Linked DNA regions of Homo sapiens: regions 2 and 3 are each linked to region 1. The links come from fine-mapping of genetic effects on gene expression. A gene starts in region 1. Each other region holds a variant in brackets. All regions are shown on one strand. Distances are from middle to middle.

The links. PIP is the estimated chance that this variant, and not a neighbour inherited with it, causes the effect.
Region 2: its variant is the best candidate, but not a certain one, in a credible set for the expression of ALDH1A2 in whole blood (TOPMed, PIP 0.79).
Region 3: its variant is the best candidate, but not a certain one, in a credible set for the expression of ALDH1A2 in tibial artery (GTEx, PIP 0.81).

The regions. Positions count from the first base shown.
Region 1 is chr15:58,063,798-58,068,039 of GRCh38, forward strand. ALDH1A2 (aldehyde dehydrogenase 1 family member A2) reads right to left here and starts at 1,914. Exons shown (of 13, transcript NM_003888.4): 1 at 1,737-1,914. The coding sequence starts at 1,853. It overlaps ALDH1A2-AS1 (ALDH1A2 antisense RNA 1), which reads left to right and starts at 1,428. Exons shown (of 3, transcript NR_147215.1): 1 at 1,428-1,945; 2 at 3,018-3,137. RefSeq lists enhancers at 932-1,451, 1,452-1,971 and a silencer at 2,580-2,769.
Region 2 is chr15:58,338,272-58,342,513 of GRCh38, forward strand. No RefSeq gene overlaps it. Among named protein-coding and RNA genes, the nearest start is that of LIPC, 92 kb to the right of the region's middle. The variant T/C (reference allele first, on the strand shown) is at 1,735.
Region 3 is chr15:57,921,388-57,925,629 of GRCh38, forward strand. No RefSeq gene overlaps it. Among named protein-coding and RNA genes, the nearest start is that of ALDH1A2-AS1, 140 kb to the right of the region's middle. The variant C/A (reference allele first, on the strand shown) is at 2,142.

The DNA.
Region 1 (4,242 bases):
TTGTTTTTCTTTGTATTAAGTGGGAAAGTGGATACTGGATAAAAGTTCCCCGAGCTAAAAGACTCCACATTAAAGGCTCCAATTAGCTATAAATCAGTTGTCTTTCCTACTGGGGGAGAACAAGAGAGAAAAGAGAGAGGGGGTAGTTAGGGAGTAAGAGAACTGGAAGAGCTTCCAAATTAAATTCTGAAAAACGTACCTATTGCATACCTAAAATTTCTTTCAGAGGCTGTTAGAAAAATCCCATCAAAAATAAGACTAAAATCAAACCTTCCCAAATCTGAGGGTTAGGTCTTTTCTCCTGTGTAGATCTTCCATTTTAAGACCTTTAAAAAGAGCCTGAAGAGGTTAGAGACCCTCATAAAATAAAACTTCTAAGCTGCATGCTTTCCCTGCTCGTTCCTAAACCCAGACAAGTGCCACACATTGGCACTATTGTTATGCAAACAATGCCTAAAAGGTTATAACCATTAACGACCTCTCATTAAAACGGCTTTGAAAAATTTGTCACACCATCTAAAAAAGCTAGCAGGTACATTAAATCCATCTAAATCGACATTCAAAACACAAATCGCCCTGATTTGTAACCTAAAACTCAATGCAAGTAAAATCTCAATATTCTGATGTTGTTTCTTGTATATCTCATTCAACCACTAAGCCAGATGCAAACAATTTACTTCTCTACAAAATTTATCTTGTAAAAAAGCACGATGGAATACATCTTTAATCAACCTTTAACCATATGCATGTGCGTCTATGCGTTTGCGTTAATTGGGAGAAGTTGAGTGTAGAAATGTACCGAAAGGACTAGAAAATCAAACCAGAGAACTACAAAATGAACTCCAAGAAACGTGGTTTTCAATCCCATCTCTCTCTCACCACCTCCCTCAAAATGTTGTAACATTACAATACCCCTACGTTTGTAATCGATCATTTTTTTTCTATGTCGAATTTGTGGAAAGTAAATTCATTTTATATTAGGTAGCAGACGCATATTCTTTTTTAGGCGATGCAACAACAAAAATCCTGCTTAGCAAACCCAAGATGTCAACGTTCGTTATAAAAAAAAAAAAGTAAGTTCTTCAGTTCAAAACCGAACATGCTAACAAATATTAAAACTTTTTAAGTTTCCCAGGGAAACTGCCGCTGCCTACAAAATTCACATGAAACGCTGACGTTGGAGTTACTGTACTTATCAGTCAGGTTTCCGTGAAATTTGTCAAACCGGCCAGAGCGCTGGTGTCTTGACAATTCCTTACGGGAAAGCCCCTCAGCACCCTCCGGGCTGTGGAGGACCTGATTGGGACCAACAGCCGAGGGGCCCGGAAGGCGGAGGACCGAGAGGCGACGGCCAGGCTGCGTGGCCAAGCTGACGGGGAACCCCGGCCTCCATCTGAGGATACTAAGCGGTTCCGACGCCTTCCCCCGCGGCAGTCGGGACCGGGAGAATCGGACAGAAACCAGCCTCAGAGTCCGGGGCAGGAGCCGTTGACGGCTGCCCCTCAACGCTGCGCTTCGGGTTGGGTTAAGTCCCCAAGGCGTCCTCAGACCACGGCGGGGCTTCAAACGCCCCAGTCCCGAAGACAGGCAGGGGGTCCCTCTGCTGCGCCGGGATGACAGGCTGGCCCCGACGACCCCGGCCCCGTCCCGCAGCCCTCACCCGCTGAAGAGATCGGGGAAACCGAAGAAGGTTCTAGAAAGTCTCCGTGGACGACGGGCGCTGGGCGGCCGCTTACCTTGGTGTACTTAATTTCGAGATTGGGCGTGGGCGACGGCAGGAGGTGCAGCGACGCCATGAGGGCGGCGGGGTCGGCCTTCACCTCGCCGGGCATCTCTATCTTGCTGGAAGTCATGGTGGCGGGCCGGGTGTCCCTAGCCCGCGGCGTGGGGCAGTGCGGGCTGTGCGCGCGGTCCGCGGCCCGGGGGCGCGCTCGCCTGTATATAGGCAGGTGTCAAGCTGGGGCTCTTCTTATTGGACGTGAGGGCCGAGGCGCGGGGGGCTGGTCCATCCTACCTAGGACGCCCGGCGCAGCCTCCATTTACATAAAGCCCGCGCCGCGCGGCCGGGACGCTTGGCGCCCACGGTCAAGTCCGCCCGGCGCTCCCGCCCCCCGGCCGCGGAGACCAGCCCACGCCGCCTCCACAGTCCTCGACGGTGGGAGCGGAACTTGCGCCGCGGCCCGCGGGCCTCGGCCAGCCGGACTTGGTCTCCGGGTCCCTGGGTCAGAGTCGGCGGGAGGCGCACAGCGGCCGAAGTCGAGCGAGGGTCGTGGCCCCCGGAAGCGGAGCTGGCAGGGGCTGGCGGGGACCGGAGCGGCCCGGTGCTGCTTCGGAGTAGAGAAAGGCCAGGAAAGTCCAGGCTGCGGAGGGCGGCTCCCAGCTCGCCCACGTTCCCTCCCATCCCCGTCCCAGGACCCACCGAACCCCGTCCCCCTTCCTTTCCGGAGACCCGGGAGGGCGTCCTCCGTTCTCCTCCTCCGGGCAGGGGCGCCAGGCTCTCGGCAGCTACGCCCTCTCCCCCGACCCCCCGACTCCCCTCAGCCGGGCCGAGGTGCATGGTGGCCAGAGGGTCAGGGAGAGGTGGCAGTGGGTGCGAGTCCCCCTCGCCTCGGGCTCAGAATGAGGATCCCTGCGAGCGGGTCAGCGCGGGGCGGCCCTTGCCAGGCGTCGCCCGCCCAGTTGCTGCCCTCTGCCGGCCGGGACCGCCCGGGCGGCTTGCGCTGTGGCGGGAGGATATGGGCAGTGATCATCCCCGGCTCCTCCGAGGAGCTGCATGCTTCGTGGGCTCCTTTAGTTCTTCTCGGATCCCCTCTTCCGGCTGTTTCCCCTCCTCACCCAGCACACCCACAGAAACACTATTTTGTTTTTCTGTTGTTCCTTACACGCTAAGAGCTATCGTCCCGCCAGACCTTAGGCTCATTTTACTGTCCCTTTGGGATTGAGTTTCCATCTCCCCCCTAATCTAAGTGTTTCCAAAGTCTAACAAGCTGCCCTCTAGTCTGTGGATCGGCCTGCAGGTGTAAACCAAGAACCTAGAGACCCTGCCTCAGAATGGGCTTTGGACTCCGTGGACTAAATCAAGGCCGCATGGAAAGACCTGCATAAGTCCCTTCCCTTCCTTACTCCTCACTCCAAATGTAAGCTTGACAGGGGCCTACAGTGTTGATAAACGCTTTTTCTACACTACCAAGCAACACTGTGATTCTCGTCTTTTTGTTTTGTTTGAAGAGACAGGGTCTCACTCCTTCACTCAGGCTGGAATGCAGTGGCACCGTGACAGCTCACTGTGATCTTGAACTGGGCTCAAGTGACCCTACCACCTCAGCCTCCCAAAGTGCTAGGATTATAGGCATGAGCCACTGCACCCGGCCTGATTCTCATCTTAAATGCCATTTTTAGAGCCGCTGGAGTCCCATTTCTTGGGCGTTAAGAAAACATTAAGCATCAGCCAGAAAACATCTTTCCTTAGATACTTTGAGTAACTAAAACTGCCTAATGCTCAGCGCTCAGATGCTAAGCAATAGTGAAAACAGACAAAAATATTTCATTTTAGTATTAGGTTTATAGAAATAAGTTCCAGCCTCTCAGAACCCAAAGTGACCTGGGTGAATCGTTTTCATGGAGAAACTACAGACCTTAGCTTGGGCAGTCGAGGGATCTGTACTCAGGGAATTTCTATGGCCAAAAATTATGACTTAATAACAGTGTATGCTCATAAGATATACTTTTATCAAAGCCTTAGAAGGTTAGAGATACAATTGAGAAATAAAAAAGTAAAATCTTAGAGTTCATTGGGGAGAAAGAGAGGGTTCCAGCAAGGGGGAACAGTGATACCTGTGGAAAAACTTATCACTAGTTATGAGAGGCTGTGGGGAAAACATGAAAAAGAGCCATAACAACATGAGCTGAGTGCTCCAAGGAGGACGCCTACTCCCTGGGAAAGCTGACCTTTGGCTGGGTCTTAAGGGAGAAGGGAGGCTTCAACAAGAGCAAAAAGAACACTATAGAAAAGGTATAGAGGCTGGGCACGGTGGCTCATGCCTGTAATCCCAGCAGTTTGGGAGGCCGAGGCGGGTGGATCACTTGAGGTCAGGAGTTCAAGACCAGCCTAACCAACATGGTGAAACCCCATCTCTACTAAAAATACAAAAATTAGCTGGGCCTGGTGGCAGGTGCGTGTAATTCTAACTACTCGGGAGGCTAAGGCAGGAGAATCGCTTGAACCCAGGAGGTGGAGGTTGT
Region 2 (4,242 bases), 270 kb after region 1:
TCTAATAGCTACATTAAAAAGGTAAGAAGAAACAAGAAAAATTACTTTAAATAATATATTTTATTTAACCCAATATATTCAAAATATTATTTCAACATACAATCAAACATAATAAATCAATTAATAATATAGTTTACATTCTTTCTTTCATATTAAGCCTTCAAAATCTGGTGGCTATTTTATACTTAAAGGACATCTCGATTTGAACACCAAATTTTCATCAGAAATACTAAATTTGTATTTAGATTTTAAAAAATATACCATTAAAAAATAGATTCATATAACCAAAGTGTTCTAAACACATTTAAAAGTTTCGAAATAAGTCAATCAAACATCAAAAATAATTTTTTTCTTTTTATTTTTTTGAGACAGAGTCTTGCTGTCTTGACCAGGCTGCAGTGCAGTGGCATGAAGTCTGCCGGCTGCAACCTCCACCTTGCTGGTTCAAGCGATTCTCCAGCCTCCTGAGTAGCTGAAACTACAGGCATGCACTACTACGCCCTGCTAAATTTTTTTGTATTTTTAGTAAAGAAGGGGTTTCATCATGTTGGCCAAACTGATCTCGAACTCCTGAACTCAGATGATCCGTCTGCCTCAACCCCCCAAAGTGCTGGGATTACAGGTGTGAGCCACCATGCCTGGACCCAATTTTATTTTAATATTTGCATCTACATTGGCCAAAATAGCTCACCTTTTTTTAGAAGAAAAAGTGTACCCATTTTAAATAAACTTTTGTCCAAGTTAGGTAAATTCACCAACTCTTGGGTCAGCTCAGTCTCACTGGCATGAACTCAAAAGAATAATATATAAATAAATAGGAAAAGAATTCTAAATGTATCAATATGAACAAAATGTCTTCCCAGTTTTTCTAGAAAAGAGACTTTTTGCAACCAATTTACATAGTACTCCAGGACCCTCCAGAGGATATGAATATCTATGGCTGCCCAAGTCCCTGATATAAAATGAAGTAGTATTTGCATACAACCTATACACATCCTCCTGTATAATTTCAGTCACTGATACATTACTTATAATACCTAATACAATGAAAATGCTTGCAGATAATTATTTTACAGTGTATTGTTTTTAAATTTGTATTACTTTTTATTGTTGTATTGTGATTTTTATTCTTTCCCAAATATTTTCTATGTACTGTCCATTGAATCTGCAGATGACATTGTAAGCTGGTTCAACCTGAGAATATAGGCCAACTGTACTTTCTTTTTTGGTTTTAAAATTTTGTTTTATTGTGGCAAGAACATTTACCATGAGATCTACCCTCTTAATAGGTTTTTGTTTGTATTTTGTAGAGAGAGACAGAGTCTGGCTTTGTCACCCAGGCTGGACTGTGGTGGTATAATCATAGCTCACTGCAGCCTTGAACTCTTGGAATTAAGGGATCTTCCTGCCTCAGCCTCCTGAGTAGCTAGAGCTATGGATATGTACCACTACACCACTACGCCTGGCTAGTTTGTTGTGTGGTTTTGGTATTTTGGTAGGGTTTCTTGTTGTTGTTGTTGTTTGTTTTTTCTTTTTGTTTTTTCTTTTTTTGGTTTTGGTTTCTGTTTTTTTGTAGAGACAAAGTCTTGCTCCGTTGTCCAGGTTGGTCTTGAACTCCTGGTCTCAAGCAGTCTTCCCACTTCAGCCTCCCGAAGTTCGGGATTATAAGCATAAGGCACGCGCCTAGCCCCTGTACTTACAGTTACAATTTAAATCTTCTGCACTTGATTTATG[T/C]TAGAAAAAAGATGTAAAATTGTTATCATTGGTTTGAATTATGAAAGTCTTCAATTTCAACATAAATTTTTGTGCCTGTCTAATTAGGTCACAAATAAGCTGTTCCTTTACTTGAAACTTCAAATTTAGCTTGTTCATATGCAGTGTAACATTGAAGAGAAAACACAAATCACATTACCATTTTGTGTCTTTGACTATTTGGCAAGTATTCCTTTGGTTTCAAGAAAATCTTGAATTGGATCTAACAGTACAGCAAATCTTTGTAAAACTCTTCCACGACTCAATCAACCAGTATTGGCAAAGAACACAGGATCGTTAAATTCATCATCTTCTATTTCTTTCAGTGGTTCCACAGACTGGTGATGATTCATAGCTTTTGCACATATACTGAACAATCTTAACAACTGCATCCATACAGCTTTCATAGTCTCCTTCAGAAAACTGAGCACATGTAGTTTCAGTAATACGTATTACATCATGGAATTAAGAATTAAGGGAAACATCAATCTCTTATTCCAAGATTCTAATAAATCTACATTTTTAAACTGATGTAACTAGATCACAATTACAACAGAAGCTAATTTTTTCATATCTAAATGAATTTCTTTGATAGCTATAAGAGATTCACGCAAGGACAGAAAACCAAACACCACATGTTCTCACTCATAGGTGGAAATTGAACAATGAGAACACTTGGACACAGGGCAGGGAACGTCACACACCGTGGCCTGTCAGGGGATTGGGGGCTGGAGGAGGGATAGCATTAGGAGAAATACCTAATGTAAATGACGAATTAATGGGTGCAGCAAACCAACGTGGCATAAGTATACATATGTAACAAACCTGCACATTGTGCACATGTACCCTAGAACTTAAAGTGTAATAATAAAAAAAAAAGAAGAAGAAAGTAAAGATTAGAAAGGTGAAGCAAAAAAAATAGAGAGATTCAAAGATATTCATGCCTTGAGTTCAACTTTTTAGGGCACAAATTCACATTTCTTTGTAAATTTGGAAGTCGTTTGAGAAGAAAGTTGTCTAAGTGCTAACTGAACAGTGTCTTTTACATCACTGAGCTCATCGAAACCTGGAGAAAAGTACTTGCAGTTTTTCAAATTTGAATCAATTTATCTTTGATATTATTAAATGGTCTTATATTCTACTAACAACTGTTTGGTGGCTTAATTGAAGATCTTTCACTTTTTATAAAATGGTATTTTTAGTCTTTTCCATTATCATTTCCAACAAATTTTCATAACTGAGATAATTTATTTTACTCTTTGTCCACCTAAAAGTGATTTCCATTTTCGTTCAAGAATCCAAGCCATTTTAAAGATAACCAAAGGCACACACTCAGATAATGCTGAAAAATTTTTAAAAATTTTATTGGACATTTACTTCTTATTTCAGGTGTCTGAGTTCATTGATTCTTTTTTGGCTATTCAAAGGAAAGTTCTTATCAAATTCACTGTGCATTTCCTGCAAATTTCTCTTAATATTACTCACTTTATTATTTTTAAATGTTTTATACAATAATAGCTTTTGCATTTTGCTCTGCCATAGCAAACTGAGACTGCCCTGAAATCTAAAATTTGCTCCAATCTTTTTTTTACTGTTCCAGTCACAATATTAGCTTCTGCATCTCCACTAGATTCCATGACAGTAGTATGTCTTCATTTTTAATTTAAATTTTTATCTATACTTAACTAGAAAACCAACTTAATGATATTACAATTAAATGCAATAATGTTAAAAAGTTTAACAAAACTTATTACTAATTACAGTTTACACTGTAACTCATGTTGCCTGCATGAAATATTCAAATAAACACAAGTTAAATCAGATACAAAGAAAGAAATCATTCAAACTGAATTACCTGCCTGACACCCACTAGATCAGTGAGGTATTTGTGTTGACTACAAGATCTTAGGCGATGTAATGAACTGTCCTACCAAAATAATAAAGTTGTGTTTAACAGAAAAGTATTTGATACTGCTTCAGCTTTTAACTTAGATTAATTTAAATAAAATGAATAATTCTGTTCCTCAGTCACCCCAGCCACATATCAAATGCTCAGTAACTACTGTGACTGGTATTAGGTGGCGCAGCTCTGGTGGGAGGCAGGGAGAAGGTCCGAGCCAGTGGGCGAGGGCTTGCGTTTCCTTGAGGTTCCGGGAGTTGGGAGGGGAGAAAAAGCATTTTGAATGAGGCTTCTGGCAGCCCCCTTCACTTCAATCACGGTTGGCTCCACTTTTATGTTTTACTCGTTGGATGCCCATATAAGATTTAGTTGGAAGAAAGCATTTCACTGTTTTTCTTTAAGAGTTTGAAACCAAACTTGGGTTCTCTATTTCCTTGCTTCTCTGACAGGGAGAACCTCAGCATGGTTCGGAAAGGCAGGTCTCAGGCTCCACTCTAGGTGATTCACGTGCGCATTAAAGTTTAGGAAATATTGGACTACATGTTTTTTTTCAGCCCAATGATCTCCTTTCCCTATGCTTCTTACACACA
Region 3 (4,242 bases), 140 kb before region 1:
TCAGAACACATCAGGGGTCTCCAAGAAAGGACCAAGTTTCCCCCAACAGTAGGGCTGCCCCAAAATGAATTTCTCTAGGAGATGTTTGTGTAAGATACATTTGCCTCATCATTATTTCTTGGGAAAGAAGTCAGCCAGAGGGGTCATCATATGAGCTCTGAGTCACAGGGTACAGGGGAGGAGCAACTATCCCAGACTCAGGAGTCCTAGTTCTAGTCCCAACCAGACGTGTGACTTGACAAACAACCACTTCCCACCCATGCCTGGGTTTCTGCATGGAGAGAATGTTAATAAAAGTGGAGTGCTAATCTAATGCCTATTCCCAAGGTGAAAGTGGGCATTGGTGGGGTTGGGGGTAGTTGTTGCCGAGGCAGAAGGGGTAATAGTTTACAAGACCAAAGTCAAGAAGGACCAGAGCTGGTGAAATGAGGCTGTTGACCTGTCCAGGAGGCACTATGAGGAACAGGTTCAAACCTCCAGCTGCTCAGTCCCCTGGGATCATTTCTGTGCCCCCACCCCCCATTATTTCCTATCATAGTTCTCTATTATTTAAAATAACACAAAAAAACACAATTTTAAGTTAAATATTCATGTGATTAAATTTTAAATGTATCTCTGCTATTATTCTGTAAGCTTTATCCAATGCTCATTCTGTATGAATAGACCTTAGCACAGTATTCACCAGGCACAGATTAAATGGAGATCTGTTGAATGACTTAATGGATAGATGGATGCGTGGAAGCAGTGTTTCCCAAGCTTCAGCATTCCCTTCAAATGGCTCATCTGCCTTCTATGTGTTAATGAGCTTGTTCCCTCTTCCCTCGCAACTAACCCCTAGCCCCCATCCAAGCAGAGCCCAAACCACTTTCTCTGTTCCCAAGAGAAAAACATGGATCTCTTCTGCTTGCTCATCTGACTTGGCATTGGGACTCTTCATTGATTACATGGCTGCTGTCCTGAGAGTCTTTACCTTTATGATGGAAGAGTTAGAAATTAGCCCAGTCCCGAAGATTACTTGAGGCCATCCATCAGCCACCACCGAATTTCTAGAGTAAGTTTGCTAAGACCTCCAAGACCACTGTGGTTCTGACAAGGAGAGCAGCTTGATTGTTTTGTTCTTGTTATTTGTTAGGCCTGTGTACCTTCCAAACAGTATCATTCATCCTCCCAACTACCTTGTGGTGTAGATGCTGTTCTTATTTCTATTTCCCATGCAAGGGTACTGAGGCACAGAGGGGCAATTGCCCAAGGTCACACAAACAGCAATGGGCTGAGCTGGCTTTGGATTCAGGCAGCCTGAGTACAGAGACCATGCCTGTAACCATTATGATCAATTTCCTCTTGTCCTAAAGTGTGTTCCTTTTGGTTAAGTTCTGCTCCAGCTGTGAGATTTCTATTCTAGGGTTCATACTGGGTCTCCAAGTAATGCCCGATTGCAAAGTGGGCGGGTGTGGAGGGGGCTGCTGTGTCCCGGGGAGAGGAAATATTTTGATTTTTGAGTGTAAATGGTGCATACAAGTTCTGCAGATTGTCCTCCAGGGGCTGCAAGCTGTGCTTTCAGGAAACACTCAAGTGTCCGCTCTGGACAGGATCAGCTCAGGGAGGAGGGGCAGGTGCCCAGCTCCTGCCTGCCAGATTTGGGCAAGCAGCCCAGGACAGAGGTGACTCCCACACCTTCACTTCCCCGATACAGGCCTGGTGTGGAAGCTCTGATTCAGCAGAGGCAAACTCTTTCTCACCATTGCATTTATTTCTGCTTTAAACAATAAGGATATAAAAGAGAATTTGGGAATTAAATCCAAAAGTATGCCAGTGGACAACAGCATATAGAGGTATTTCGTAAAGCTCCATTTTTAAGTAACAGAAACCCTCCCAATTAGTGATTTTAACCCTTTTAAAAAATTGCTTGGATTAAAATAAGCTTTTAAGCAAACCTGGAACCAATATGCTGTTGTTTCTCCTGTTTGTATCAATCTTACAGCTGTTGCTTTGCTAGGATTAATTTGCCTCTGAGGGGTTTCAACACTATCCTCCCTGGTGTATTTTCAGAGCCCATAATGTCATGTAATCGGGACCATGTTATTTTTGTCTGAATCTCTGGGAGTGATGTAAGAGGAAAAAGGAAACTAGCTAACTCCCAA[C/A]CATTTGACCAAAGGTTAAATTAGTCTTGGCCTTTCCCCAGCTGGACAGAATGCTGCTCAAACATTTATTCCATCCAGCCAGGCAGAGTGGAAGCCCTCCTCCTTTCTTCTTTAATTGTTTTCCCTAAGATATCCATCCCCATCATGCCCCCAAATAACATGCCCATCCTTTTGCCCTCCTCCCCATGCCCCACCACCTTCACATCGTTCATTATAGAGCATCAGCACTGGAGAGAAGTGTGTAGAAAAGACTCAGGAGGTAGAAGTAGATCCTGATGTGGGAACTGGAAATATGTTTTTCTTGAGAAAGTCTTCCAGTCAGTGAGTGGCTGCTTGGAGGACACACTGCTTGGCTCCTTGCCTTTGTTACCAATGCAGATACCCAGCATTGCCAGGATCTCAGAAACACCCTGATACTTCCGATTGTAATTTCTACTTGAAACTGCCAAGAAATGCAAGCCAAAAACTCCACCCAAGCCCAGTAGCGGGTGTCCTTGTAAGACACATAGCCATGTCAACATTTCACCCTATCAGACTTAAACTTGGTCCAAGTATAGGAGGTTTCATTGGGGCTGGGAGTGGACCTTTAAAAACTAGCATATCTCTCCATCGACACTACCTACCTATCTACTTTGTATTTTCTTTCTTTCTTTCTTTTTTTTTTTTTTTTTTTTTGAGATGGAGTCTCACTTAGCTGCCCAGGCTGGAGTGCAGTGGCACGGTCTTGGCTCACTGCAACCTCTGCCTCCCGGGTTCAAGCAGTTCTCCTGCCTCAGCCACACAAGTAGCTGGGACTACAGGTGCGTGCCACCACACCTGGCTAATTTTTTGTATTTTTAGTCAAGATGGGGTTTCACCGTGTTAGCCAGGATGGTCTTGATCTCCTGACCTTGTGATCCGCCCGCGTCGGCCTCTCAAAGTGCTGGGATTACAGGCGTGAGCCACCTTTCCCGGCCTACTTTGTATTTTAAATAACTTCAGGGCATAAGTTGTGGCTATTGAATGACACACCAGGCCAGTGAAATATTCATGCTTCATTTTTGGCATTTTTTTTCTTTTGTCAGCAGGCAGAAATCCATTCAGTGGCCTGTACGGCAAACTACAGCCTTCTGAAAAAAATGTCTCCTCTCCCAGAAGCAAGGAACACTGTGATACAGTAGAATGAGCTGGGACTTTGGAGCTAGAAGACCTATAAATGCAATGGCTAACATTTATAGAGACTTCAAGTCTATGCTAAGCACTTTATATGCATGATTTCTTTCAGCATGTGCAATGATCCCAGGAGGCAGATACTTTTATTGTCCTCATTTTCAGAGAAGGAAATTGACTCTTCAAGTGTCTGGGTAACAGCCTAAGGTCCTAGAAGCAGAGGGAGGAAACCAGTCTGGGTTTATTGGGACAGCAAGTATATGGGCTACTCGACACTGCTTGCCTGAGAGCGTGCTATGAACCCACCTCAGTTCCTTCTTCCCTGAAATGGGAATAATAAAATTTGCCTTTCCTACAGACAAGTTGGAAAGTGAAGCACAGATGTAAAAAACTGTGGACACTGTGAAGCAATATGCAAGTGGTTCTGTTATTCCTATGACTGAGAAATGCTGTACAACAGGGACCCACCTCCTGCCTCCTGAGCTTCTGTTTTTGGCCTCAGCTCTTGCAATTCATGGGGTAATGGTGATGGTGGCTTACCTAAATGGTAATGATGACATTTCAAGTCTCAATGGATAAAATGTAAAAAGAAGTAGCAGCAAGAGAACAAGGAAAGGATCTAAGAAAACAAGGGCATATGGTGGCAAGGAGAGAGAAGGAGAAACAGGATGCTGAAATAGCAATCCTTGGGTCAGAATTTTTCCTATTAACACACTAGCCTGATGTCCATTCGGACATCTTTATCCACTCAGATTCATTCTTTCAAATGCATTCTGCAAGTAGCTCTCACATCTGACTTTTCTCTTTCCCCTCTGTTGCTGTCTTGGGTCAGGTGCCCATCACCATTCACTTGGGCTTCGTCATAGATGTCTTTGTCAAAGAGGCCTCCAGTCTCATCTTTTTCCAGCTCATCGTCCATCCTGTCAGCAGAAATCTTATTCCCCAAAGACTA